2 separate regions of the Homo sapiens genome follow, and region 1 is linked to region 2. The links come from fine-mapping of genetic effects on gene expression. Tissue or cell type: unexposed skin. Region 2 holds a variant in brackets; the other region holds the start of a gene. All regions are shown on one strand. Distances are between the middles of the regions.

What was found. PIP is the estimated chance that this variant, and not a neighbour inherited with it, causes the effect.
Region 1: it holds the start of CCDC183-AS1, and the variant in region 2 is fine-mapped to the expression of CCDC183-AS1 in unexposed skin (GTEx, PIP 0.95).

What each region holds. Positions count from the first base shown.
Region 1 is chr9:136,807,360-136,809,859 of GRCh38, forward strand. It overlaps CCDC183-AS1 (CCDC183 antisense RNA 1), which reads right to left and starts at 1,489. Exons shown (of 5, transcript NR_024580.1): 1 at 1,368-1,489. CCDC183 (coiled-coil domain containing 183) reads left to right here. Exons shown (of 14, transcript NM_001039374.5): 14 at 213-382. The coding sequence ends at 331. RABL6 (RAB, member RAS oncogene family like 6) reads left to right here and starts at 589. Exons shown (of 15, transcript NM_024718.5): 1 at 589-967. The coding sequence starts at 838. It also overlaps the pseudogene LOC100422233. RefSeq lists enhancers at 1-128, 129-725 and silencers at 1-230, 431-600, 651-710, 731-860, 871-1,400.
Region 2 is chr9:136,848,912-136,851,411 of GRCh38, forward strand. It overlaps PHPT1 (phosphohistidine phosphatase 1), which reads left to right and starts at 498. Exons shown (of 3, transcript NM_014172.6): 1 at 498-679; 2 at 1,102-1,226; 3 at 1,844-2,113. The coding sequence starts at 520. The coding sequence ends at 1,936. RefSeq lists silencers at 30-109, 290-349, 740-819 and an enhancer at 470-749. The variant G/T (reference allele first, on the strand shown) is at 1,309.

The DNA.
Region 1 (2,500 bases), 42 kb before region 2:
CCGGAGCTTCCACTGGGGGTTCTGCGGGAAAGGCTAGGCAGGGCAGCGTGAGCCGCTGCGAATGGGCTGGGCTGAGTCCTCCCGGCACGCTGGGGCTGTCCCTGGGGCAAGGCACCTGGCCCGGGTCGGTGGAGGGCGGGGGCGAGAGGCGGGTCGGGCGGCTGCGCCTAGCTGGGCTAGCCCCGTGTGCGAGCCGCCGCCTCCGCCCGCAGACACCTTCCAGTTCCCCGACATGGACCACAGCTACGTCCCTTCGCGCGCCGAGATCAAGAGGCAGGCGCAGCGGCTAATCGAGGGGAAGCTCAAGGCGGCCAAGAAAAAGAAGAAGTAGCCCCGCCGCCCCGCTCCCTGCTTTGCTACACAAATAAACATTTTTCCAGGACTGCTGCGGACGCTGGGGCGACCGGGGTCTCGGAGAGGAGCACGGGACACGCAGGATCGGGGGAGGTTCTGCGTAAGGAGGCAGCCCGGGCCCGGAACTGCGCGCCAGAACCGCGTGCGCATGCGCCGACCGCGCGCGCCGCGCCCCCGCGGCCCTCGCGGCGCCCCGTAGCCGCGCACCCCTCCCGTCCCGCCGAGCCGGCGCCAAGATGGCGGCGCTGACTCCTGGAGAGCGGTCGCGCCGGAGGCCGCGGGGGCCGGAGCGGAGCAGCCGCGGCTGAGGTTCCCGAGTCGCCGCTCGGGGCTGCGCTCCGCCGCCGGGACCCCGGCCTCTGGCCGCGCCGGCTCCGGCCTCCGGGGGGGCCGGGGCCGCCGGGACATGGTGCCAGTCGCACCCCTTCCCCGCCGCCGCTGAGCTCGCCGGCCGCGCCCGGGCTGGGACGTCCGAGCGGGAAGATGTTTTCCGCCCTGAAGAAGCTGGTGGGGTCGGACCAGGCCCCGGGCCGGGACAAGAACATCCCCGCCGGGCTGCAGTCCATGAACCAGGCGTTGCAGAGGCGCTTCGCCAAGGGGGTGCAGTACAACAGTGAGTGCGGCGGGCCGGGGGGGCGCGGGAGCGCCGCGCGGGTCTCCGAACCCAGGCCCCGGGCGCCGCGCGGTGGTGGGTGTCGGTCTCACCTGCTTGCCGGTTGTGGGGTGCGCTGGGCCCGCCGGGCGCTCCGGGAGCGGGGGCGCGGGCCAGGGGACGCGAGGAGAGGCCAGGCCAGGGCCGGGTCCTCGCGGCCCCCGAGCCGCGGGTCGTTTCCCAGCCGCACTCGCCTGCCGCGTGTCGCTCCCGCCGCGCTGTGCAGTGGAGCGGGTCGGCGGCGGCGGGGTTGGCCCGGCTGCCCGGCCCGGGGGTGATTACATAATGCCAAGCAGGGCCCGCCGGCCCGGGGCGCCGCGCCCCCGACGCTCCACGGTGCCCAGCCCCGGGCACCACTCACCTGCAGGAGGTGCGGGGAACCCAGCCGGCCTTGGCGCTTTCAGCGGGATTTTTCTTTGTTGACTTCCTACTGAGTTTGAAGACAGAATATTAGCTACGCCACACATTCTCGCCTTTTTTTTTAAAAGAAGCGTTTGTAAGAGACGTATCTAGAAAAGCTCCAGAAGGCACGGGCTGACTTGCGACTGTAGGAGACATCCCATTTCTCGTAGGAAGGAGGAGTCATTTACGGACTCCTGAGTGCCTGGGACGCTCCATTCCTTTGTTATAAATTGTGTAAATTGTCCTCGACCTCTTATGAGTTTTTCCATCTTGCGGGCTCTTTCCCAGTAGTTTTTGAAAGCTTTTATGTGGTTCCCTGTTTTGACATTGCTTCCCTCTTAGCCATTTCCGTATGTTTCTATGAGGTTTTAGGACGCTACGCCTATCCAGTTTTTTGGTCACTTTAAGGGGAGCCTTAGAGCCTCCGTGATATTTCCATGGTAATGTAGAATTTTAAGAACTAATGATCAGAAAGACTCTTGTGCAGGTTTAAAAGCAAGTTCATGAATTCGCGTGCCGTGTGCACGGAGAGAGGCCGTAGTTCCTGGGGCTGGAGCTAGTCCAGGAGGACAGTGAAGATGTCGCCTTCCTTAGTCCCCCGGCCTGTGAGCAAGAGGAAGCTGCAGACCACTCGGGCCACCCTCACCCAGACACCTTTAGCAGTAAGCAAGATAAAACAACTTCTTAAAGATAAGTCTGAGCATCTAGGTATGAAAGTTGGTGTCCGGGCCGGGCACGGTGGCTCATGCCTGTAATCCCAGCACTTTGGGAGGCCAAGGCGGGCAGATCACGAGGTCAGGAATTCGAGACCAGCCTGGCCAACATAGTGAAACACCGTCTCTACTAAAAATACGAAAAAAAAATTTAAAAGAAAGTTGATGTCCGAACCAAGGGCCGTATTGGCTTTTCTTATACTCTAGAACATACGACGACAAAGAAGATTTTGATGAAGTTCAAATTAGAGTCAGCGTGCTCATCAGAAAGAAAGCGCAGCCAACACGTTTAGGAACAGAAACGGATTATGTTGAAGACAAACAATCCATTGCGTTTGTGTTCAGTAACCCAAGCATCAAAGGAACTTGTGGCTGGGGA
Region 2 (2,500 bases):
GTCCTTCGGGCGGTGGAGGGGGTGGAGAGCGAGGCCTTCGGGCGGTGGAGAGCGGGGAGGGGGGAGGCCTTCGGGCGGTGGGAGGGGGAGAGAGGGAGGCCTTTGGGCGGTGGGGGCCACGGGGAGGGTGGTCTTCGGACTACGTGCGGGACAGGAGGTCAGGGCTGGCAAGTCCCTCAGGCCTCCCTCGTTGCCCCAGCCTCGCGGGCCGCCTAACTGCCCCGTTCCAAGGGTGCCACCGGACCCCGCTGGAGAGGAACTTCTCCGTTGGCTGGATTTCATCACCACCCATTCCCGATTCCACGTTTCCTTTAAGCGGGGCTGGCGGAGCCGCAAGGCGGCAAGGAACTGGATTGCGATTGGTCAGCACGTGCCTCGGTCGGCGGTACAATTGGCTGAGGCGCTGGGCCTTGGGAAGCATTCCCCGACGGGATTGGTCGTCGCTCTCGCAGAGCCCGCCTCCCGCAGTACAAGCGGCCCCCGGGTCGGGTGGGAGGAGGGGACTCCGGGAGGAGGAACATGGCGGTGGCGGACCTCGCTCTCATTCCTGATGTGGACATCGACTCCGACGGCGTCTTCAAGTATGTGCTGATCCGAGTCCACTCGGCTCCCCGCTCCGGGGCTCCGGCTGCAGAGAGCAAGGAGATCGTGCGCGGCTACAAGTGGGCTGAGTACCATGGTGAGGGCGGGACCTGCGGGCATGCCAGGGGCACGCCTGGCGAGGCGGGGGCGGGGCTGGCGGGACGGAGACGGGGCTGACGAGGCAGGGGCGGGGCTGGCGGGGCGGGGGCGGGGCTGCGGGCCGTAGCGGACTGCGCTCTGCTCCGAGTCCTGCCCCTGCTAGGTTTGACCCAGGCTGAGGTCCTGGGCGGGAAGGGCGTGACACGGCCTGACACCCTCCCCAGCAGTCTCCCAGTTCCCGCGCCCTCCCCGGTTCCACCCTCCTTCGCTCATTCATCCCTGTCCCAGCCTCAAGGGGCTTCGTCTCTCCTGGGGAAGGGGCTGTTCAGAGCTGGGATTTCAGACCCCTTCGGCTGGGAGTTCCTCCCGCGGCCTCCAAGGGCGGCCAGGGCACGTCCTGAGGCCGCCCTCCCATCCCAGCGGACATCTACGACAAAGTGTCGGGCGACATGCAGAAGCAAGGCTGCGACTGTGAGTGTCTGGGCGGCGGGCGCATCTCCCACCAGAGTCAGGACAAGAAGATTCACGTGTACGGCTATTCCATGGTGAGCCGCAGCCCCGTCCCGCCCTGCCGGAGGCCCCAGTACCAGCTTCGAGGCCCACCTGAGCCTGCTGCCCTGACCCGTG[G/T]CCCCAGCTGAGCACGCAGGCTTCCTGGGGTTCTCCCAGGGTCGGCGGCAGAGCCCTCCCTCCAGGGCCCATTGTGTTCCTGCATTCCCCCATGGAGCACACGCCAGACCTGAGGGGTGGGACGGACACCCCCAGACATGGCCGGCTGTCTCCTCTCCCTGCCTTGGGAGGCCTTGCTGGGCTCTAGCTGTCCTCCAGCACTTTGGGCCCTGGGCCCCCAGAGGCAGTCAGTACCTGGGTGGAGCTCAGAGTCCCCACCTGTGCTCTTCACAAAAACCACCAGCAGATGAGACCCACGTGCGTCCCTCTGGGCGCCTCAGGCCCCAGGATCCACCATCAAGGTTTGCTTGCCTGTGGAGGTCGCCTCTCCCCAGGGGAGCCCCCAAGGGCGGTCGGGATGGTGGGTTTGGCATCCCCAGGCACTGCCTATCCCTTTCCCACACTCGCTTCTGGTGTGGCTGGTGGCTGGATGCCCAGAGCCGGGTATCGGGTTGAAGGGTCCAGGTAGTGCCAGCAGGCGTCTTCTCTTCTCCAGGCCTATGGTCCTGCCCAGCACGCCATTTCAACTGAGAAAATCAAAGCCAAGTACCCCGACTACGAGGTCACCTGGGCTAACGACGGCTACTGAGCACTCCCAGCCCGGGGCCTGCTGCCTCCAGCAGCCACTTCAGAGCCCCCGCCTTTGCCTGCACTCCTCTTGCAGGGCTGGCCCTGCCTGCTCCTGCGGCAGCCTCTGGTGACGTGCTGTCCACCAGGCCTTGGAGACAGGCTAGCCTGGCCACAGAATTAAACGTGTTGCCACACCTGCCGGCTTCTGAACTCTGTCCTTGGCTTCCTGCACCCTGCGTCACCACCTCCGGGGGCCCCCAGACCCTAACTAAAGCAGGTGGGTGGGGGAACACAGGAGTGGCCCCAGGGAGTGGCGGTGCACACTCAGCCCTTTGGGGTCTGATAAAGGGGCCCGCTGATGGCCTGACTGCTCTTCCCACGGCCATCGTCCTCCAGGGCATCTTGGAGGAGGTCTGGCAAGCCCTTGCGAGAGGAGTCAGGGCCTGGTCCCTCGGGCTGGCCAAGACCTGGGGCGCCCACCAGTGCTCCCTCCTATGAGCCCATCCCAGGGCTCCCCAGTGTCCTGTCTGCCCTGAGGCTCCTTCCGTGACCTGCAGGCTCCTTCCATGACCAGCCCCATGGG